Linked DNA regions of Homo sapiens. The protein of the gene in region 2 interacts with the protein of the main gene of each other region in a pairwise test. Each region holds a gene or a part of one and is shown on either strand. Other genes may lie near its edges. The genes, in order: VEZF1, RUBCN, BRD1 and FAM161A.

What was found.
Region 1: the proteins of RUBCN (region 2) and VEZF1 interact in binary tests that used the Homo sapiens proteins (3 or more experiments, as listed by UniProt).
Region 3: the proteins of RUBCN (region 2) and BRD1 interact in binary tests that used the Homo sapiens proteins (3 or more experiments, as listed by UniProt).
Region 4: the proteins of RUBCN (region 2) and FAM161A interact in binary tests that used the Homo sapiens proteins (3 or more experiments, as listed by UniProt).

The regions. Positions count from the first base shown.
Region 1 is NC_000017.11:57,971,226-57,978,262, forward strand, and holds the end of VEZF1 (vascular endothelial zinc finger 1), read right to left. Parts: intron 3,676-7,037; coding exon 3,248-3,675; 3' UTR 327-3,247; downstream 1-326. UniProt on the Homo sapiens protein: Possible transcription factor. Specifically binds to the CT/GC-rich region of the interleukin-3 promoter and mediates tax transactivation of IL-3.
Region 2 is NC_000003.12:197,677,868-197,684,904, forward strand, and holds part of RUBCN (run domain Beclin-1-interacting and cysteine-rich domain-containing protein), read right to left. Parts: intron 6,351-7,037; coding exon 6,290-6,350; intron 5,573-6,289; coding exon 5,440-5,572; intron 4,749-5,439; coding exon 4,603-4,748; intron 4,033-4,602; coding exon 3,968-4,032; intron 3,501-3,967; coding exon 3,262-3,500; intron 1-3,261.
Region 3 is NC_000022.11:49,772,758-49,775,885, forward strand, and holds the end of BRD1 (bromodomain-containing protein 1), read right to left. Parts: intron 2,989-3,128; coding exon 2,834-2,988; intron 1,660-2,833; coding exon 1,476-1,659; 3' UTR 526-1,475; downstream 1-525. UniProt on the Homo sapiens protein: Scaffold subunit of various histone acetyltransferase (HAT) complexes, such as the MOZ/MORF and HBO1 complexes, that acts as a regulator of hematopoiesis.
Region 4 is NC_000002.12:61,837,052-61,844,088, reverse strand, and holds part of FAM161A (protein FAM161A), read left to right. Parts: intron 1-1,728; coding exon 1,729-1,967; intron 1,968-3,507; coding exon 3,508-4,668; intron 4,669-5,383; coding exon 5,384-5,551; exon of another isoform or gene 5,552-6,144; intron 6,145-7,037. UniProt on the Homo sapiens protein: Involved in ciliogenesis.

The DNA.
Region 1 (7,037 bases), on a different chromosome or scaffold from region 2:
TTCAACTAAGGAAATTGGGTCCTAGAGCATGAGAAGAAATGTTTTAAACCCATCTTCTCTTTTGGGTAGGACAGGGACCTAAACCTGTGGCCACTGCCTCCATCCTAGCTTCCTGGGCCTTACCTGAGCTGCTTGGGAGGGTGCACCTACCAAGGGCAGTCAGTCTGGTGCCCTTCCACCCTCCAACCAGCCTGATACTGGTCCCTCCCTCTCTCTCCAACCCAATACTGAGATGTGCGCACCTGAAAAGAAAGTACTTGAAAAATTCCTCTATTATCAGAGCAAACTGATGAAGCTTCTGAGGTATTAAACAATCCATCATAACATTTGTGACCAGTTAACTTTAATTTTCAAAATAAATCTGCAGTATTTTGCATGTTAGTAATACAGTGCTGGTATTGACAGGTAAAATCATCATCTGCTTACATAGAAACCTTCATTCAGGAGCACACCGTAGGAGGGGAACGGATACACAATAAAAAGCAAACGCAGGCCAAGCAGCGAGCCCTAGAGCGTAACAGGCTGGATGTCAGATTTAAGGATTATCTAATACAACTGTTTAGCTGCCAATCTGATAAAGGGGAAGCTCTCAACCAGGTTACAACCAGAAGGGAAAAACGTACTCTGCCTTTTCGTAGAGCAGTGGCTGTCGTGCCTTCAACACCTGGTTGAATCAGTTCATCAACATCGAAACTCAATTCCAGTTCCAAGACACAGAATTTCATCACACAACCTATTCGGTACCCCTTTTCAGTGGCCCACCCAAAACCCCCTCCTGCCATCGACTCTCTCCCTCCCAAAAGAAGACATGACGTGGCTTTATTATTGCAGACAAGCTTCTTAAGTGAATAAAGAATGCATACAAAATAGTATTTTAACTGAAGTCATACAATGAAGTCTCACTCCTGTTTATTATACAATGAATTGATAAAACAATTACTTCTAGTATATATCTTTTTTTTTTTAGAACTAATACTTTCAGGGTTCTGACAACCACATTCTAGCTTAGGGGTAGGGCCCACACCTGCCCCCACTGAGGACTGCTCCTTGGACCACTGTGGAGGAAGCCTGGGCTGTCTGAATTGTGAATTATGACTGCCAGCCCACCAGAGATAACAGATCCCAGCAGGCAGAGCCAGAACCCAGTTTTGGGTCTGCATGCCAGGAAATGTGAACTTCCTCCAAATGTGGCCACTGTGCCTCCCAATCCAGGCCTCAGCAAGGTCATTCTTGGGCTTTCCCTACACGAGTCCTTCCAGTAGTCCACACATAATGCTCTACATATTAAAAACAAACCATTTTTGTACTGTGGATAAGAACAGTTGTAACAAAGTCATAGCTACATATTTTTCTCTACATTTTGTTTATTGAGACAAACTAATTAAAAGGCACAAACATAGGGCATGTTTACATGGACATTATAACAAACATATACATTAAAAGTGTAGGAATGTGTTGCCTTCCTGCTAAACAGAAAGTTCCTAAGCTTTTATATATACAAAAGTTGTACAATTTAATGTCCTAAAGTACAAAAGATCATTTATAAAATTATTTTACACTAAGTACTATTTATTTTATTTTTTTACTATGTAGTTCAACCCCCTAGAACTGTTTTGTATAATGACACACAGATACCTGTCCCTGATGTAGGAAGTCTGTCTCAGATGCAAGGTATTTTGATGCTTGAACTGACACAGTAGGGTATAAATGGAAATCATCCAGTTTGATAGTCAGTCCTGCAAACATTCTGCAAGATTAACACAACTAATTTCCATTTCTCTTAACTGCAATGATTAAAAAATGAAAAAAACCAAAAACATATTGCAACTTAAAAAATCACAGCATCTTGGTTTAGTTAATTTTTTTTTTAACGCAATGCTTTAAAAACAATGCGTGGCATGATGGTGTAAAGAGTATCTGTTTCCCTAGCTTTTGGTTTCTACTTTATGTACAGAGATAAAATATCTTGCTAAGAAATAAAAAGCACATGTCTCAACGTGCATAATCATTGCTGGGTTTCTACAGGGAATGCAGACAGCTGTCTCCCTGAAAACACCACAAAGCTGATACAAGTGTTTTCTCAAAGAAAAAAAAAGTGATGTCCATATTTACAAAGTTGAACAAATCTGCGCAATACTTAAGAAACGGAAGGAGAAATTTAAAAAAAGATACACTCTGCATGTTCTGAAGGGGCATACACTACCTAGTTAGTGGTTAGAATAAAAACTGTATACAATTTAATATAAGACATAAACTCTAGTGAGCAACTAACACATCTGTCCCTGTTGTAATATCAACAGGCTCTGATTGGGAGAGAGAGGGGCATATCACATCCCAGTGCCTCCAGCGTCTTCCAATTTAAAGCAATATATTTGTACTGTTCCAAAGTACTCCTTGGCTCCTAAATAGGAATCCCACTGGACTCTGTTTATTAGGAGCTTGCCTGTCCACACACTTGACTTCTCCTCTGTCAGTTGAGGCTTTTCTTAGCAAAACACAATTTGTAGATTTTTTTTAAATTTTTTTTTTTTTTAAAAAGTCAACTACAATGCTATATTCCATCGGGATTAATATGCTGAGCAATATTTACATCTCCAAATATCAGGTCACAATCCCTATTATACGTTGAAGTTAGAATGATAAATTATCATATGCTTTGCATATCAGAGCTGGTATCACCTTTCCCATAGGGAATGCTGCCTGAAATTAACATATTCCCAAAGGTAAAATGCATATTCTCTGAAATGCATTTTATTATGACAATGCATGTATTTACTCATAAAAACAATAAACACAGACAATTCTACACTAGCTCTCAATCTGTGGATTTAAAATTTCAGGTTAAAATCAGCCATCCACCTTGTATAGGGAGAAGAGTTCTGCTAGTGTTTACAATAAAGTGATTCCTTGGGATTAGAAATAGTAATGCTGTTTTTTTATTTTGAAGTGGGTTCTACTTATGATTGGTTTTAATTCTGGCATTTCATCTTGCCAACTACTATCCTGTTTAAGCAATGTTGTCAGCTAAAAGGAATTTCTGATTAAACTAAAGTGGTCCAGTGATAAGTTACATACACACCCTACTTTGAATAATCCCAGCCAAATTGGAGAAAAATGCTACCACACTCTTATTAACTAATGTAATAAAATCTCCCAATTTCATGGTTTACTTTTTGCTTTAATCAACTAAAAGTTAAGTTGCTGGTAAATATTTACTTTTACCCATATTTTGATTTTATAATACTGTTTACCAAGGCGGTGATGTAGGCAAAGCTTGGGGCAAGAAAGGCATGCTCTCTACAGGTCTCATTGCTATATTGAGAGGGGCGGCTAATGTCATAGGTGTGGGTAGATTCATTGGAGATGTGATGGTGACAGGGTGTGCTATATTCACTGGGGCAGTGACGGGGGTGGGGAGGTTGACTGGGGTAGTGAGTGTTAAAGGAGAGGTCATGGATAATGGACTGGTTATAGTTACAGGATGCCCTATGTTCATTGGGCTGGTTATGTTAACTGCACTTGAAACATTTACTGGACTTCTCATGCTCATTGCAGCTGCCACTGTGACTGGGTTTGACATAGTCCCAGACGACACAGAGGATGTTATACTGAATGGAGTAGTGAGAGTCACAGGTGTCGTAGCAGCCGTGGAGGTTTGGCACAGGTTAGCAGCTTCTAAAATAAGAAGAAAAAGGGTCTTTAGATTCTCAAAACAGTGAGCAAAATTCACAAAGTTTCTGAATCAATTTCTTTTCATTAAAAATGTCAAACATTTAATAAATCAAATTCCAGTTTTCTATCAAGCGGTCAACAGAACAGAGGATCTTTCTGAGCACAAGCCTGGGGGCCAGGGATCCCAGTGTATGAATCACCTTCTGATGCTATACCTCCTGCAAGGACTTAAGCAACTTGTTTAGCCTTGCACTTTAGGTTTCAAGTTCAGATTTACTTACCTACCTCACAGTGATGCTGAGAGGATCAGTTAACTTCTGCAATGCAGGGCTAAGTGTTCTCACTACTACTTCATGCAGTTCCTCTGAGTTCTAAAAACTTTCTTGGGAAGAGCCAACCTCCAGCAGGCCAGGCTAAAGAGCTTGTTTACACAGAGCTGGGCCAATGGTTACACAATAACAGATAATCAGAAAAATCTTCTCGTAAGGCACACTGTAACTAGCAGAGAGAGGTGTGCATACTCAATAAGTATGTTAAAGCCTGAGACATGAAGCCACATTCTGTGAAGGTTTTAAAAATGCATAATTGGGGAATGATAAACAAGCTATTTTAGTATCATGTTTGTTTCAGTTTTAGAAATATGTTTCAGTTAAATAATCTTATTCTTTCTGGTTATGTTTCTTAACTACATTAGGAAAGAAAAAAATACTCCTCAATAAGTTCATGTTCTCCTCACTCCCATTTCTTCTTGTTTCTGATGTTGACACAATCACCTATTTTATGCCTAGTATCTTTAACTCTACATATTACACATACCACCAAGCATACCAAAGAGAACTAGCTAGGCAAGGAGACCCTGCAGTGAGTTAGAGGACCCTGGTCCTTCTTATCCAACAAAACCTGGACACTTTTTTTTCTGAGACAGGGTCTCCTTCTGTTGCTCAGGCTGGAGTGCAGTAGCATGATCAAAGCTTACTGCAGCCTCAAACCCTCAAGGCTCAAGCAATCCTCCCACTTTAGTCTACCAAGTAGCTGGGACTACAGGTGCATGCCATCACGCCCAGCTAATTTTTGTGTTTTTTGTAGAGACTGGGTTTCGCCACGTTGCCCAGGCTGGTCTCCTCCTAGGCTCAAGCGATCCGTCCACCTCAGCCTCCCAAAGTGCTGGGATTAAGGTGTGAGCCAGGTCTAGACACTTCTTAAAAAATACTTCCCCTCAAGGTGACATCCCCAACCCACCCCTCAACAAAATTCAGCACCAGAAAACAGCAGTAAAATGATGGGTAGGCTAGCTGTGACTTGGCTATCAAAATGGAGAAATATACTTGAACTAAAGATAGAGATCTGTATATGATCCACAAAGGTCTTATCACCGCAGGGGGACCCTTGAGTCAAGCAGCCCTTACTTGATCAATACAATGTAACTTTGGCACACACCATTCTCCCTATCAGGGATTCCCAAATCTGGCTGATTATCAAAATCAACTATCTAGAGGACTTCAAAACAAACAAACAAACAAACAAAAAAAACCCAACAAAACAAAAACAAAGGACTCCAGGAGAATCAATAGTGAAATTTAGATGGAACTTGGGAAATGTGTATTTTTAAAAAGCTTCCCAGACAATATGATTGTCGATCAGGTTTGAAAACTTATGTTACCTTATTTAGGCCTAATATTTAAAGGACGTTATAGATTCAAGCTTAGATTTTCAGGTCAGGAGTCTCCTCTCCTCTAAAATGTGACATTTACTAACATGAATACAGAGGTTTCTAAGATCAGTGGTCTTTTTGAGAGAGATTCACGCTACAAATGGGAATACAATAACATTTTGTTTCATGGAAGTCAGAAGATGAGCTAAACAACCAAGTCTTATTGTGCAAGCAAATTGAAATACAATACCAAATAGAGGAGTACACCGAGAGAGATTGAGAGAGAAAACCAATTCACTTTAAGGTGCTGGGAGTATTGCTGAGGATATTCTCCACCTGCTTTCACCAAAGAATTTTTACTCTCTTATCTGCTGACCCCCTTACCTCCTCCTCCGTGTTTTCTTTTTAATCTAAGAGTGTCCTTTTACTATGACTTAAACATTTTTACTCCTTCTCTAAGTAAAATACCCTTCATAATATACTTTCAACCCACTATACAATTATCACAGCACTACACTTTTTCCTCCCCATTGCCCGTCCCCTCTCCCCATTCTAACACAAAAGTTCATTTGTTTTGTTTTTTTTGAGATGGGGGTCTCAATCTGTTGTCCAGGCTGGAGTGCAGTGATGCAATTGTAGCTCACTGCAGCCTCAAACTCCTGGGTTCAAGTGACCCTCCCACCTTAGCTTCCTGAGTAGCGGGGACTACAGACACGCACTGTCACGTCCGGCTAATTTTTTGTTGTTGTTGTTGTTTTTGTAGAGATGGGGTCTTGCCATCTTGCCCAGGCTGGTCTCAAACTCCTGGCCTCAAGTGATCCTCCCACCTTGGCCTCCTGAAGTGCTGGAATTATAGGTGTGAGCCATCACACCTGGCCAAAACATTTTATTAAAATAATGACAAATCTTCAGATGGAAGCTAGGAACAAGCAGCACCTGAGGAATGATGAAAAGCCTATACGGACTGCTGCATTCTTTTCTTCCAATGCCAGTAAATGTATGAAAAAGAATGTCGCCAGGGCCCAGTAGCTCACGCCTATAATCCCAGTACTTTGGGAGGGTGAGGCGGGCAGATCACCTGAGGTCGGGAATTCGAGACCAGCCTGACCAACATGGAGAAACCCTGTCTCTACTAAAAATACAAAATTAGCTGGGCGCGGTGGCACATGCCTGTAATCCCAGCTACTCAGGAGGCTGAGGCAGGAGAATCGCTTGAACCTGGGAGGCGGAGGTTGTGGTGAGACAAGATCATGCCATTGCACTCCAGCCTGGGCAACAAGAGCAAAACTCCATCTCAAAAAAAGAAAAAAAAAAAAAAAGAATGCTATTCCTTTTATTTTTATCCAAGTATAGGAGGTTTAGAGATCACTCTGGCCAGGTGTGGTGACTCATGCCTGTAATCCCAGAACTTTAGGAGTCTGAGGCGGGTGGATCACTTGAGATCAGGAGTTCAAGACTAGCCTGGCCAACATGGCAAAACCCTGTCTCTAGTAAAAATACAAAAATTAGTCGGGTGTGGTGGCACACACCTGTCGTCCTGGCTACCCGGGAGGCTGAGGCACAAGAATCACTTGAACCCAGGAGGCGGAGGCTGCAGTGAGCCGAGATCACGCCACTGCACTCAAGCCTGAGCAACAGAGCGAGAGACTCTGTCTAAAAAAGAAAAAAAAAAAACAGAAGGGATCACTCTGAGGAAGGGAAGAGCCACACTACA
Region 2 (7,037 bases):
CTGTCCTATGCTCTAACTCGACACCTGGCTTCAGACTGTCCCACACTCTGACTGACAACTGGCTTCAGACTGTCCTACGCTCTAACTCGACACCTGGCTTCAGACTGTCCCACACTCTGACTGACAGCTGGCTTCAGACTGTCCCACGCTCTAACTCGACAACTGGTTCCAGACTGTCCTATGCTCTAACTCGACACCTGGCTTCTGACTGTCCCACACTCTGACTGACAACTGGCTTCAGACTGTCCTACGCTCTAACTCGACACCTGGCTTCAGACTGTCCCACACTCTGACAGCTGGCTTCAGACTGTCCCACGCTCTAACTCGACAACTGGCTTCAGACTGTTGTATGCTCTAACTCGATACCTGGCTTCAGACTGTCCCACACTCTGACTGACAACTGGCTCCAGACTGTCCTATGCTCTGACAACTGGCTTCAGACTGTCCTATGCTCTAACTCGACAACTGGCTTCAGACTGTCCTATGCTCTAACAACTGGCTTCAGACTGTCCTACACTCTGACAACTGGCTTCAGACTGTCCTACGCTCTAACTCGTCAACTGGCTTCAGACTGTCCTATGCTCTAACTGACAACTGGCTTCAGACTGTCCTACGCTCTAACTGACAACTGGCTCCAGACTGTCCTACGCTCTAACAACTGGCTTCAGACTGTCCTACGCTCTGACTGACAACTGGCTTCAGACTGTCCTACACTCTGACAACTGGCTCCAGACTGTCCTACGCTCTGACAACTGGCTCCAGACTGTCCTACGCTCTAACTGACAACTGGCTTCAGATTGTCCTACGCTCTGACAACTGGCTCCAGACTGTCGTATGCTCTAACTGACAACTGGCTTCAGACTGTCCTACGCTCTAACTGACAACTGGCTCCAGACTGTCCTACGCTCTAACAACTGGCTTCAGACTGTCCTACGCTCTGACAACTGGCTCCAGACTGTCGTACGCTCTAACTGACAACTGGCTTCAGACTGTCCTACGCTCTAACTGACAACTGGCTCCAGACTGTCCTACGCTCTAACAACTGGCTTCAGACTGTCCTACGCTCTGACAACTGGCTCCAGACTGTCGTATGCTCTAACTGACAACTGGCTTCAGACTGTCCTACGCTCTAACTCGTCAACTGGCTTCAGACTGTCCTACGCTCTGACAACTGGCTCCAGACTGTCCTACGCTCTGACAACTGGCTTCAGACTGTCCTGTGCTCTAACTGACAACTGGCTTCAGACTGTCCTATGCTCTGACAACTGGCTTCAGACTGTCCTATGCTCTAACTCGACAAGTGGCTTCAGACTGTCCTACGCTCTGACAACTGGCTTCAGACTGTCCTACGCTCTAACTCGACAAGTGGCTTCAGACTGTCCTACGCTCTGACAACTGGCTCCAGACTGTCCTATGCTCTGACAACTGGCTTCAGACTGTCCTACGCTCTGACTGACAACTGGCTTCAGCCTGTCCTACGCTCTGACTGACAACTGGCTTTAGACTGTCCTACGCTCTAACTTGTCAACTGGCTTCAGACTGTCCTACGCTCTAACTGACAACTGGCTTCAGACTGTCCTACGCTCTGACAACTGGCTCCAGACTGTCCTACGCTCTGACAACTGGCTCCAGACTGTCCTACGCTCTAACTGACAACTGGCTCCAGACTGTCCTACGCTCTGACAACTGGCTCCAGACTGTCCTATGCTCTGACCACTGGCTCCAGACTGTCCTACGCTCTGACAACTGGCTTCAGACTGTCCTACGCTCTAACTGACAACTGGCTTCAGACTGTCCTACGCTCTGACAACTGGCTCCAGACTGTCCTATGCTCTAACTGACAACTGGCTCCAGACTGTCCTACGCTCTGACAACTGGCTCCAGACTGTCCTACGCTCTGACAACTGGCTTCAGACTGTCCTACGCTCTAACTGACAACTGGCTCCAGACTGTCCTACGCTCTGACAACTGGCTCCAGACTGTCCTACGCTCTGACAACTGGCTCCAGACTGTCCTGTGCTCTGACAACTGGCTTCAGACTGTCCTACGCTCTGACAACTGGCTCCAGACTGTCCTACGCTCTGACAACTGGCTCCAGACTGTCCTACGCTCTAACTGACAACTGGCTTCAGATTGTCCTGTGCTCTGACAACTGGCTTCAGACTGTCCTACGCTCTGACAACTGGCTTCAGACTGTCCTACGCTCTAACTGACAACTGGCTTCAGACTGTCCTGTGCTCTGACAACTGGCTTCAGACTGTCCTACGCTCTGACAACTGGCTCCAGACTGTCCTACGCTCTGACAACTGGCTCCAGACTGTCCTACGCTCTAACTGACAACTGGCTCCAGACTGTCCTGTGCTCTAACTGACAACTGGCTTCAGACTGTCCTGTGCTCTGACAACTGGCTTCAGACTGTCCTACGCTCTGACAACTGGCTCCAGACTGTCCTACGCTCTGACAACTGGCTCCAGACTGTCCTACGCTCTAACTGACAACTGGCTCCAGACTGTCCTGTGCTCTAACTGACAACTGGCTTCAGACTGTCCTACGCTCTAACTCGACAAGTGGCTTCAGACTGTCCTACGCTCTAACTGACAACTGGCTCCAGACTGTCCTACGCTCTAACTCGACAAGTGGCTTCAGACTGTCCTACGCTCTAACTGACAACTGGCTTCAGACTGTCTTACGCTCTAACTGACAACTGGCTTCAGACTGTCCTATGCTCTAACTTGCTCTAACTCACTCTGACAACTGGCTTCAGAGTGCCCTCTAGTCAGGGAAGGCCCCTCCGCCAGGTCTGTCTGCCCGAGTCACATAAGCAGTCTGGGCAGAGGAGTGCTCCGAAATTCCAATTTCTTACTCGATACCCGATTCCTCATTCATTCACTAATGTTTTTAGTGAAGGAAGAAATTCTGCTTTTGCCCTCAAGTGCTATCTACAGCTTCCTAGCTGCCATTGCCACGTTTGAGGCTCCAACTAGACAGATAACCTGGGAAATGGGAAGAGATTAAGAAAGTACATAGTGAGGGCATGAACGGAGAGACGGTTATAGCTTTGACACTGCGATAACAAGAAGTGTGGTAATTGTGGGAAGCCCTATATAACCAGGGGAGGGGACAAGGAGAGGAGACGAGGGGAGGGGATGGGGGGAGGGGACAAGAGGAGGGGATGGGGGGAGGGGACGGGGGAGGGACGAGGGGAGGGGATGAGGGGAGGAGAAGGGCAAGACTCTAAGGTGGCCTTTTCCAAGGTCTTACCCGGACTTGATTGAGCAGCTTGACCTTCCTATAGAGGGCACTGTTTATGTCCTGCACGTTGAAGAGAGGATCATTCCAGATCTTAATGAGCAGGTCCTTGGAGAAGTTGCTGACGTAGTACTTGCTGAAGTCCCACTTGCGCAGAACCCGGCTGGGGATGGCCATCTGGGCATTCTCGTGGCAGCACTGGCAGAAGTACTTGCCCAGGTACTCACAGTACCGCAGTCGCTTGATGTAATCTGGAAAAACCGGAAAGCCAGAAAGCCAGATGTAACTTTCCCATCTACAAGCTGGGAAGGCAGCTCTGCTTTTCCCTTGAAAGGGCAGAGAGGGACAGCCAATGGCCTCCAGCAACCTCTGTCTGAGTTCCCCAAAGCTTGCAGAAATCCACATAGTGGATCCTGGGGTGATAATGTCCTACCTTGGAGGCCCTGAGGAAATAAAACCAGCTGGAGATAGTAAGATCCCGCCTTACCAGCTAGCTGGAACTACCCAACTTTCCACAGGATACAATCCTGGCCATGTGCTCCCAGAAATCATTTCCCTCCGATTGCCAGCACTCTTGCCTACTACGAACCTTTCTTTCTCCTTCCCTACTTCTGCCACGCCACCTCCTGCTACCGCCTTTGACACGCCACCTCTCCCTACGTGTCGGGGAGGGTACAGAGCCTCTGGAGGCAGCATGGTGGGAAGGGAAGGCACTCACCAGGGTCAGTCCGGATGCCACATCCTGCACAGCGGTAATTCTGCTTGGCCACGGCAATTTTCCTCCTGAGGAAGGGTAAGGACAGGGCATTGGCACAGAGCAGCTGCGTGAGACCTTGGAGGTGTGAAGGAGTGAGCACACATACATACAGCTCCAGTTAAGTATGGGAAGAGAGGGGAATTCACCTACATTTTAGTTGGACAAAAATGAACCTATTGGGAGAGCTAACTCCATATAAGATTTAGGTCTAGGCAGTCACTCTGCCCAGTAAGGAACCACACATTCTGTACAAATATAAGGAATGAGATGTGGTAAAGGAGAGAGAATGACAGGAGAGAAGAGCATCCATCTATCTTAGAAAGAGAAGAAAAACCAGCAAGCCCACACAACTACTGGGAGGAAAGCTACAGGTTGGGAATGCCAGCAAAACAAAACCCGCCTCGTTTCCAATTAGCTCCAGGAATTAAGAGTAAGAAACGAAGGACCAAATGGACGACGCCCCCCCTCTGCCTTTAAATGAAGAGAACGGTGTGGGAAGGACAGCTGGAGGCAGGGACAAGTGGGTGAGACGAAAACCCTGACAATCCAAAGAGGACGGATCTGTGCTCCAAAGGGCACAGACACTGGCCACTCACGTTGGGGCTGGATGAACATTAAAAATTATCTGAGGCCGGGGCGGGGCCCACTCCAAGTTGCCACGAACACGAATCCGCAGCTTGTAGATGTCAGCGTGCTGCCCGTCATCCGGTGAGATGGGCAGTGAGTCAGGAATGGGCAGGAGCTGCAGGAGGAAAGCACAGTTGGGGTAAGCTCGTGTCAGTGTGCTGCCCGTCATCTGGTGAGATGGGCAGTGAGTCAGGGATGGGCAGGAGAAAAACACAGTTGGGGTAAGTTCACACGGACGGGCTTGAGAAACAGAAATGCGGGACCCTTTTGGCCATGACAGAGCATAATGAGTGAAAGACATTTCAGGAACACCACAGGATAAGGGCTTCAGGGAACCTCAGAAACAACCAGGAGGCGCCAAGGTACTACAAGTGAGGGCCGTGGGTTCCAAGAAGCAAACAGAAACAGCCTACCAGGGCAGTGGCCCCACGGCTCATGCTGTCCCTGCACCCATCCCAGGACCCTTGCTGTGCCAGTGTGTTTCATGCCTTAAAGACAACTGCAGAGCAAAGAATCCAAGCGATTTACTTTTGCGTAGTGTCTCCGAGGTGGTCACAAACCAAACATGACTGAGTCTGGCGAGCAGTCACGTGAATAAGGACCGCGAACGCGCCGTCATCTCTGCTCTGACAAGGTGAGCAAGCATTCACTCGTTCATTTATCACTTGACACATTGTAATGAATGGCTTCCACGAGTAAGGGGGGAACACCCAGGCTCATTCCAGACTAGGGACATGTGACGAAGGAAAACAAGGTCACAGAGGCTCACGATGGCCCCTGGGTAGGAAGAAGAGCTAAGGACCTACCTTCTGAGGGGCATCATGCTCCGGGACAAGCCACTCCAGCTCCGAGGCGGCTGGAAGCTGCATCCCCTCAAACTGCTTCAGGAGCCCCATGGCCACCGCCTCAGCAGACGTGGAGTGCAGGAAGCAGTGGGAGCTGGAAAGGGGAGAATCAAGGACGGCTGAACACAGGGAAAGGATGGGCGATGCGAGGCTTCCCTTCATGATCTCATCCCCCACGCAGCAACTTCTGGGCTGGAAGAACACCCGCAGCACCCTGGCCTGCTCATCACCCTCACACATGGGACAGTCAAAGTCCACTAGTCTCACGGTCCTAAGACTTCGGTTCAAGCCCCACTTCCTGCCACTGCACGGCACTGCTAATGAAGGACTCTGTCACTTCCTTTCTCTGAACTTCAGCTCCTCTAACAGCAAAATGGAGATTATAATGCCTGCTTACAAAACAAAGTGAGTAAAATTGCTTTGTGGACTACAAAGCGATTTTTCCTCCCAAATGAGCTACTGTGTCCCCTGGTTGGGTCTATGATGTGGAATCTGTTCAATTTGATTTCATAACCAAAAACCATCATCACTGCTCTCTTTTGAGACCTTCTGGGGCCTCTGGTTATGATGAGAGTCAGCAGAGAAGGAATAACTCACTTCCAGCTTTGCCTCCACGAGAGCCCATCCCACTGGGACCAAAGAGCTTCTGCTTTCTTCCCGTGGGCTCGGCACCATCAGCAAGCCCCTCCCTTTAACCTCGCCTCCTCTTACATCTGGATGGCTTTGCCCAGCCATACACCAAGAACTGGGTTTGTTTCTCTACATATCCTAAGGTTTTCTTTTCTTTTTTTTGGTAAAAAAAAGTACTCACAAGGACTGGGAGGAAACGAAGGATTTGCTGCTTGAGGCTGTGTTCCTTCTGATGTCAGCATCTACATGGAAACCAGAGATAAGGGGAGCGCAATGGAAACGGGGTGGGTAAGGGAACCTGGAATCTATTACAAGGTGCTCCCAGCTAAGCTCTCAGGGTAACAGCCAGGTGCCACACTCTATGCAGGAGAAAGGAGCAGGTGAAGCTCTAAACACAGGTTATAATTTGCCTCTATCCAAATCAAAACCAGGCTGAATTAGTAACATTATGCATAGCACTGAAAAGGTCAAAGTGTTACAAACTCAGGCAGAAAGACAAACTCAGCTTTGGTGTAAAACAGTGAATGAGAAGACGAGCATCCTAAGGCACACAGGGACACAACCCCTCATATGCACAAACACAAAACAAAGGACTCAAATCTCTCCCTCACTCTCCACATCTTAACCTTTCTCAAATGGTAAGCTCCCTTAGGCAGTAACTCTGTCTGGCTTATATATATATACATATATATATACACACACACATATATACACATATATATACATATATACGCACACACATATATGTGTGTGTATATATATACACACACGTATATATATACATATATAAAAAACATTTAGTGCCTAACACATAACTGGGATCATAGAGGTTCTCATGAAATATATGTGAAATTGGAACTTTGCTTCTAATATTTCACCACTGTTGCCATTACCCCGAATGTTAGAAGTGTCTGCAGTTTTGCCTCTAA
Region 3 (3,128 bases), on a different chromosome or scaffold from region 2:
CAGCACGATCAGGCTGTGGGTGGCAGAGAAGGGGTGCAAACTGCACCCGCCATTAGCTGGGCTTCTCGGTGGTAGCCCTGAGTGCTCCACGGCCTGTCCCCACCTGGCTCCTGCACCCGCTTCCTTTCTGCGTGGGCTTCCTTTCTGCGTGGGCGGTGAGTGATCCTGGGGGCCACCAGCTGCTCGTGGTGGGGAGGGGCCTGCCGGGCGGGGCTGGCTGTGGGAAGGAGAGCCACGACAGATAGGAAGCACCTGCCAGATGCAGGACAGCAACTATCTAAGGAAGACTTGATTTCCAAGTTTCTATGGAGATGTTACAAACGGTGTAGGCTTAAAAAAAGCATTTAAAACTTTTATGTAACTGAAGTTTTAAAATAAAAATATGATCAGGTGAAATAACAAATAATGCCATCCCATGACAGTTTTCAAGATAAAGGCGTGTCCCCGCCCCCTGCAGCCAGCACCCCACCCGTCCTTGGGGCTCACCTAGCCGTCTAGGGCTGTAGGAATAAAATGGCCACACCGTCCAAATCTTGACTTTATTTTTAATATAAAAAATGCAAATTTGGAAACCCACCCTACTTTCCCCAACATAATGCTTTACCTCTTAAAAATAAAAATAAAGTACTAATTCTATATACATCACAGGTACCATACAAAAATGTATCCAAAGTTTCTATTGCTACCAAAGTGTTCTAAATTAAAACAAGTTACAGAAAGCCCCTCATTGTAAACAAAAGATTACAAGTTATAAAATCAAAGTACACACAGGCCAGAGTCATTTATACAATGCAATGCATTCTGCTCCCAAGCCAAGTTGAATTTTTATGTGCCTGTATAAAAATGCATATCAATATACCTTTGCAAATGTATTTTTCATTATAAAGCAAATGAATACACTTTCTACAATAAATAATCCGCTGGGAGGCACACCTGCGGGGTTTGAGGTGGGCGGGACGACGGGAGCGGGGACACACCCACCGGCGGTCACGGGCAGCGGAGTGTTTTTGGTGATCTGCAAGTGATGTACACAGCATAACTTTATTCTCCCCTCTTTCCACAAAGTACCATTCAAAATAATGTCATTTTCTTTCTTAAAATACACATTTGTCATTGTAAATTTACATCCCGTCTTATTAAATAAGTGGTACTCTGTGTAAAGAGCATGATTTACAAAATTATTAAACATTCAAAAGTCTTTAAGAAAAAGCTACATATCAAAGAAAGTGACGCCAGCAGCACGGCCTGGGGACGTGCGACAGACGCACTGGGCTGCCCGGACGTGCCCACCCCACTCACAGCGCCCAGACGGAGATGGGTTCCTAGAAAACTTGGAAATAAAACCTCCCCCCTCCCCGGGGAAAAAGAATTAAAGAGCTATAACTAAAAATCAGAATAAGTTAAGTTTTGAACAATATACAAACATGTACAGCTTATCAACACTATGGACAAGACCCGCGCTGGCGGCCGGGCCGTCAGTCAATGTCACTGAGGTCGCTGGTCGGCTCCCCGTGGACGCGGCTCAGGTGGTTCATGGCGCGGTCAAAAGCGATCCGCACGGCCTTCCGGATGCTGGAATTCCTCCCTTCCATCATCTTTAACTTGTCTATAGTTTCGTCAATACCAAGGGGAACCATTTTGGACTTAGGAAGCCACTGCCTTTTTAAAAGGAAAAACAAGCGGAAAATCATTGCTTGCACATGGTATTTCAGCAGGCTCCATGTAATCATCTAACAAATTCACTGCCCTCCGATAGAAAGGGGCCCTGCTCAGCACCACCAAGACAGCTGGGCCCCGTGCAGGGACAGGCCCGAGGCCAGGAGTGCACCCCTCCCTTCCCCTCCCCGACTTGGGGATACGGGGAGCTAAGTAAGGCATAAAAACCATCACCTCCTCCTCCACCTCCAAAACGTTTCCCAGTGCCTGCTTAGTGACAAGACATGCACACACCAAGCCCAGAGTCAGGGTGGGCCCTGGAGCAGAGGCCGGTGGTTGGGGAGACCCCATCAAAGGGGCCCTCGGATGGACAAGGTGTGGGCCTCGCTCAAGGCCTGACAAGAAGCAGTGGCCACGTGGCCAAAGAGGCAGAGGTCGAGGCAAGGAAGAGAAAGACGGTAGGGATGCCTGTGCTGCCAGTCCTGCTCCAGGCACACCATAGGCAGGTGGCCCCGAGCCCCTGCGCCAGGTCCCAAGTGCAGCCAGCTCCACGGGGAACCAGGAAGCACCTGCCCGGGCCACGTGCGCAGGGCACAGCCGGGGCCACAGCTCCTCCCAGAGGCATGTGCTGCCAGCGTGTCCTGCACAGAGGGATCTTGGGGTCTAAACCCTGGCACATGAGGGTCCCAGACGCTCTGGGGAAAAGCAGCTCAGGGCACAGGGGGAGCCTCCTGTGATGGGGTGGATGTCTGAGCAGAGCTGGATGATGCTGGGACAGAAGGCTCTAAGAACAGGGCCAGAGGCCAGGCCCGGGCAGGGGCCATGTCCTGCAGTACAGGGGTCCGGGAGCACAGCAGAGGGACCCCCAACACTGGAGCGGACACATGGGTAAGGAGTAGGGAAGAGACAGTCCAGACCAATGGGGCTCAGGCGAGAGGGAGAGGAAGCCATCGGGCAGAGACAGACCCGGTGCTCAGTGCCCGTCCCACAGTCCCGGCGAGGGGGCTGGGCAGTGCCCTTCTCCACCAGGCAAACAGCGGAGCACTCACCTCCGACTTTAGCTGTGCCAGGGCCCAGCAGACAAAGACGCTGCTCACCACAGGGACACTCAGGTCACCGAGCCCACGGCCCCCAACCACCCCAGCCGGTCCCCGGAGTCTAAGGCCTCTCAACTCACCAACTTCTCTTATTATCAAAAAAGAGAACGAGGAACAGCTTCTCATCAGACTTGGTCTGCATGTGCTCCCCAATCTTCAGCACGTCCAGGGGTGGGGCCGGGATGGTGACGCCGTTGTGGTGGCCAGGCACACGGGGCATCTTGGGGTCGATGATCTGCACGAGAAGGACCCGCTGAGGTCATTGTGAGGCTCACACCCATAAACAACCCCACCTGTCACTGGCACCCCCCCCCGCCTCCCCACCCCAGCTGTGTGAGCCTCCTCAGACCACCCCCACGCCCCCCTCGCCGAACC
Region 4 (7,037 bases), on a different chromosome or scaffold from region 2:
TCACTGCAAGCTCTGCCTCCCAGGTTCACGCCATTCTCCTGCTGCAGCCTCCCGAGTAGCTGGGAATATAGGTGCCCGCCAGCACACCTGGCTAATTTTTTGTATTTTTAGTAGAGATGGGGTTTTGCCATGTTAGCCAGGATTGTCTCAATCTCCTGACCTCGTGATCCACCTGCCTCGGCCTCCCAAAGTGCTGGGATTATAGGCGTGAGCCACCGTGCCCGGCCTCTGAAGACTGATTTTTTAAAAGTTGTTTTCTTTAAGTTACCCCAAGTAGTACAACATTGTCCTCTTGTATGCTGATTTTAGCGTATTAAAAAAAATACCATATCTTCTGAGAAGCCTCCAGTGGGAAACAAAAATACCACATCTATAACTACTATTTATAATTGACTCTTCTGAATTTTTATTTTGAGAGAAGCTAAACAGATTATTTTCTAGAGTCTTATCAGATTGGATCTATAATTTTCTGTAGCAAATTTTTTCATTTTGCATCTGTTCCAGACAGTAGGCTAAATTTAAAACTGTGGTTGGCAGCCTTTTATGCATAGTATCATAAATAATTTCAACTGTTTCTCAACTGAGAACATAATAAAAATTTTATATTTATGGAGAAAATGGGGTTTTATCTCTTTAGTTGCTTCAATTAAAAGAACTGAAAGGGTAGGGCACGGTGGCTCATGCCCATAATCCCAGCACTTTGAGAGGCCGAGGCGAGTAGATCACCTGAGGTCAAGAATTCAAGACCAGTCTGGCCAACATGGTGAAACCCCGTCTCTACTAAAATACAAAAATTAGCTGGGTGTGGTGGTGTGCGCCTGTAATCCCAGCTACTTGGGAGTCTGAGGCAGGAGAAGGCAGAGGTTGCAGTGAGCTGAGATGGTGCCACTGCACTCCAGCCTGAGTGACAGAGTGAGACTCCGTCTCGTAAAAACAAACAAACAAACAAAAAAACTGAAAGGTATGTAAAGGGAGTGAGGGAGAAAGGCCAGTCAGACCCTTCTAAACATGATCTGTATGTTGAATAATTACAGCATTTTTTCTTCTTTGCTTTGTTGTCATCCTAAAGTCCCGGTCACCCATGGGAGCTACTGCTTTTGTGCCCACAGAAGCAGCTACCCTGAAAGTCCCTCCTACCCCCTCCCATGTCCTCTTACTCCCTCCCAAAGTCTTGCCCCACTGTGAGGAGGGCTTCTCCCTGGCTCCTTGATAAGCCACTGAGAACTTTGTCCCTGCCCCCATTTCCTCTATTTCCCTGCCTTCTCTCCACTGGCAGTCCTTGGAGCCACACTGCAGGAGCGCAGCTGGAGGGAGAGCATTGGGCTGTGGTTGCCTGGTTTACAGCAGGTAGAACCGTGTTCCTCTTCATCTCAGTTAAAACTTACAACTCAGGAGGCTCCTTATAGAAATACTTTGTAAAGGGTTGTTGGGTTCTATCCTATTATACCTTTTGTTGGTTGATCTGGGAATTGAACCATCCTTTATCAAATGGATTAAATAACATTTATTTTCTGACAGTTTGGTCTTGCTCCCTCTCGTTCTTAAAATATCACTGGGGAAAATGTACATAGCCCACAAATAACCTATAACTCATTCTATATGCATAGCCCATAATTAATGTATAACCTAACTAGGTGGACTCTTTAAGAAGCAGCATTTTGGATCAGTGTCAGCTTAATTTGTCTTTCAGCTCCAGTCACTATATATCAAGTGTTTTCTCCCCACCAGGCTGATTTGAACACCAGCTTTTCTGGGGTGGATGAACATGCACCGATAAGCTATGAGGACTTTGTGAACTTTCCTGATATTCACCACTCTAATGAGGAGTATTTCAAGAAAGTAGAAGAGTTGAAGGCTGCCCACATAGAAACTATGGCAAAATTAGAGAAAATGTACCAGGATAAATTACATTTAAAGGAAGTTCAGCCAGTGGTCATCAGAGAAGACTCTCTTAGTGACTCTTCCAGGTAAGCTTGTAACTCAATGTTATTTGTGGAGTATAAAATAAAATGTATCCTTAAAAGGACAGAACAAAGTTACTTCATAATATTTTCTCTTAAATAGCCCTTTGTACTCCCAACGATATACAGAGGTAGGATTTTATTCAAAATGTTTAATGGCTTATCAGCTTACTGGATGACCGTTTGCTTGAGGGTCATTTGGTGGCCATTTGGTCTTTTCTTTCTGACCCACCCATAGAACTGAGGGCATGTATCAAAATACTTAGTCTGTGCCATTTTAACTGGTAAATATAAAAGTTTAATTTTAAAAGCTCTTTATAATATGTGGATTAACATGAGCTCATTAAAGATCTAGTACAAAGAGTTCAGGACTAGGAGACATGAATCTGATTTATGTTTTCAAAATAGTCTGCAATTTCAAGACCCATTTCTGCTGTGAACTCACCTGCTCTGAGACTTACACATCTAGTCAGTCAGCGATGCTTGCATGTCTCCTTTGTGCCAGACTATGCCTGGGCGCTGAGGAGTCAAAAACAAGATGCCCTCAAGGAGCTTAGAGACTAGCTGAGAACCAAAAATTGCATTACAGCATGATGTAACAGAGTGTTACAGAGGAAGAAGCAGTTGGTCATGCCAAGCTTTCAGAGGGATGCAGGCCAGAATTTTCCACTAAAGTGTCACATCTGAGTTCAGTCTTGGAGGAGGAATAAGTATTGGCCTTCTAGGCAGCAGAAACCATGTATGCAAAGGCAAGATGGCATGAGAAATCATATCGTGTGTGAGGAACTTCACAGGACTGGATATGAATGCAGAATGGAGACTGGGGTAGCCAGTGGTGAGGGGTAAGACTGAAAAGATAGGCGCCAGTCTCGAAGGGCTTGTAATCTAGGCTTGACTTCGTAGCAGTGAGGAATTATCAAAAAGTTTCAAGCAGGGGAATGACATGATCAGATCTATGCTTCAGGACAGTGACTCTGGAAAGTGGGGAGAATTTAATAGAGGTTAGACACAAGGACCCTCTGCCATCTCAGGTTCCTTCCCTGTAAAATGAAGGAGTCAAAGTGGATAATTTATGGGCATTGCCCAGCTCTATTCCAAATAAAAGTGATGATTCTTACAAGCCCTGTCCAGCTCCTCGCTTCTGATTATACCCTGATCTTAGAAAATATGTAACTCTTGGCTGGGCACAGTGGCTCATGCCTGTAATCTCAGCACTTTGGGAGGCGGAGGCAGGCAGATCACGAGGTCAGGAGATTGAGACCATCCTGGGTAACTTGGTAAAACCCTGTCTCTACTAAAAATGCAGAAAATTAGCTGAGCATGGTGGCACAAGCCTGTAGTCCCAGCTACTCGGGAGGCTGAGACAGGAGAATTGCTTGAACCTGGGAGGTGGAGGTTGCAGTGAGCCGATATCACACCACTGCACTCCAACCTGGGCAACAGAGTGAGACTCTGTCTCAGAAAAAAAAAGAAAATATGTAACTCTTAATTTTTATATTTGGTCACATACAACTGAAAGTATAACATAGTTATTCTTCTCATTTAGATCTGTATCAGAAAAGAACTCCTATCACCCTGTCTCATTAATGACATCATTTTCAGAGCCTGATTTAGGCCAGTCTTCCTCCTTGTATGTGTCCTCCTCTGAAGAGGAGTTACCCAACCTAGAAAAAGAGTATCCTAGGAAAAACAGAATGATGACCTATGCTAAGGAGCTCATCAACAATATGTGGACAGACTTTTGTGTTGAGGATTATATTCGCTGTAAAGATACTGGCTTCCATGCAGCTGAAAAAAGAAGGAAGAAACGAAAAGAATGGGTGCCCACAATTACAGTACCGGAGCCTTTTCAAATGATGATAAGAGAACAGAAGAAAAAAGAAGAGTCCATGAAATCTAAATCAGATATCGAAATGGTACATAAAGCGCTCAAAAAACAAGAAGAGGATCCAGAGTATAAGAAGAAATTCCGAGCCAATCCAGTTCCTGCATCTGTCTTTCTCCCCCTTTACCATGATTTAGTCAAGCAAAAAGAAGAACGGAGAAGGTCTCTGAAGGAGAAAAGCAAAGAAGCTCTTTTGGCCTCACAAAAGCCATTTAAATTTATAGCAAGGGAGGAACAGAAGCGAGCAGCCCGGGAAAAGCAGCTGAGAGACTTTCTTAAGTATAAAAAGAAAACAAATCGATTTAAAGCCAGACCCATTCCTCGATCTACTTATGGTTCAACTACCAATGACAAGTTAAAAGAAGAAGAGCTCTATCGAAACCTTAGGACACAGCTGAGAGCCCAGGAGCATTTACAGAACTCATCTCCTCTGCCTTGTAGGTCAGCTTGTGGATGCAGGAACCCCAGGTGTCCTGAACAGGCTGTAAAGTTGAAGTGTAAACACAAGGTTAGGTGCCCAACTCCTGATTTTGAGGACCTTCCTGAGAGATACCAGAAACACCTCTCAGAACACAAGTCTCCAAAACTCTTAACAGTGTGTAAACCATTTGATCTTCATGCATCTCCACATGCATCTATTAAAAGAGAAAAAATTTTGGCAGACATCGAAGCAGATGAAGAAAATTTAAAAGAAACACGTTGGCCTTATTTGTCTCCAAGGCGTAAGTCACCAGTAAGATGTGCAGGTGTAAACCCTGTGCCTTGTAACTGCAACCCTCCCGTGCCCACGGTATCTTCCAGAGGACGAGAACAAGCCGTAAGGTAAGTAAGTAGGACGCAGTACTGACTGACTCATGGTTGCCAGATGAGTGTATGCAGCTCTGTGGAGTTTATGTTGGTAAATTTGAAAATACTTAGAAATTATTATTGTATCTATAAGATATTTTACTATATAATATATGATATTTTGTCAGAGGGTATTCTAAGAAATGAATATATTTTTCATTTATAAATTTTGGGGGATTAGAAAATAATAGTCTTAAGATTTCTAGTTTTACCTGGCTGGGCACAGTGGCTTACACCTGTAATCCCAGTGCTTTGGGAGGTCGAGGCAGGTGGATCACAAGGTCAGGAGTTCAAGACCACCCTGGCCGAGATAATGAAACCCCCATCTCTACTAAAAATACAAAAAATTAGCTGGGCGTGGTGGCGGGTGCCTGTAATCCCAGCTACTCAGGAGGCTGAGGCAGGAGAATCGCTTGAATCCAGGAGGCAGAGGTTGCAGTGAGCCGAGATCACGCCATGGCACTCCAGCCTGGGCGACAGAGCGAGACTCCATCTCAAAAAAAATAAATAAATAAATAAATAAATAAATAAATAAATAAATATTTCTAGTTTTACAGGTCAGATCCTTTTCAAAAGGTTACCTTTTTTCAAATTTTGAATTATCAAAATTCAAATTATCCCATGTTAAATCTTTGCTAAACAACATTCTGATTGGCTTAAAGTGGATTAAGCCTTAGTTTGTTACCCTCAGGAGATCACTTGAGGAAAAGAAAATGTTGGAAGAAGAGAGAAATCGGATCCTAACTAAACAGAAGCAAAGAATGAAAGAATTGCAGAAACTCCTGACAACCCGGGCTAAGGCTTATGACTCACATCAAAGTTTAGCTCAAATATCTAAATCCAGAGTAAAATGTCTCAGGTATCATGAAAAAATCTTGAATCTCCAGACCACTGGTTTTCAAACTCTTTTTTTTTTAATCAGTAGATAGTAAAATATGAGCAGATTGAAAATAGCATTAGTGTTTTAGCTTATGGATTTAAATTGTCATCAGTTACTTGTGTTCAGTGCACACACACTCACCTCATGGTGAGAACCAACATATAAACTCACCTTTATGGTGAGAACCATGAAGCTATGTTGATGAATACAGACATTTTCTATTGTGGCCTTAGTTAATGGTTATAATCTTATACCAATATCTGATCTTGTTCTTTATATTATTTTTGATTGCAGTAAACAGATATATCAAAGAGCTTTGTTCTAAGGTTTGGATGAAATCTGATAGCACAAATTAACACGTTAAACATCGGTTATGTGATGTGTTCATTAGCACATATGTTAATGTTTAGTAGTATGTGTTGCATTTTGTTAGTTTCAATATAAAAATATTCACGGAATTCTTAGAACCCCTTCACTAGAATTTTGCAGTACAAAGTTTGAAAACCAGTGTTCCAGATGTTGCACATAAAAATGTTGATGTTTAAGTAGGAAACTATCTCCCTCAAAGCCAGGTAAGTAATGTGATTTATTACTTTTTAATCTGATTTCTAAATATGCATATGTGCTTTTAATTACAATGAGTATTCTTTTATAATTTAGCTTTAATCCATTGATAAAGGGAGCTTAATTTGATGAACGTGAGCATAATGTTTCTTAGAAATAGATTACTTACCCTTAGGAAGTAAACTATTAATAGCTTTTTATTTTTTATTTATTTATTTTTTTGAGACAGAGTCTCGCTCTGTCACCTAGGCTGGATCCCGAGTTCAAGCGATTCTCCTGCCTCAGCTTACAGAGTAGCTGGGATTACAGGTGCTCACCACCACGCCTAGCTAATTTTTGTATTTTTGGTAGAGATGAGGTTTTGCCATGTTGGCCAAGCTGGTCTCAAACTCCTGACCTCAGGTGATCTGCCTACCTTGGCCTCCCAAAGTGCTGGGATTACAGGCGTGAGCCACCGTGCCTGGACAATAGCTTTTTCATAACACCAACTTGTGTATAATTAAGCCTAATTATCATTTAAAAGTATAATTATTTTCCCCAATCCATTAATCTTATTTATCTTGGTAGCAATTATATCTTACATAGAGAAAATAGTGTAGTTTAATTTATTATAGGATCTTGCTCAAACAGTGAGAACACTTACGGTAAATTTATATATTTTGGTTCCTGTTTCTCTTTATGTTGTATTCCCATGCTCTTTACTTCTCCTTTGACTTGCTCCCATTGAATTAACTTTGCCACTAACCTGTAGGAGATCTTATTTAGGGGAAAAAAATAACAGCAAAGGCTGGATGCCATGGCTCACATCTGTAATCCCAACACCTCAGGAGTACAAGGCAGGAAGATTGCTTGAGCCCAGGAGTTTGAGACCAGCCTGGTAAACATAATGAGACCCCCATCT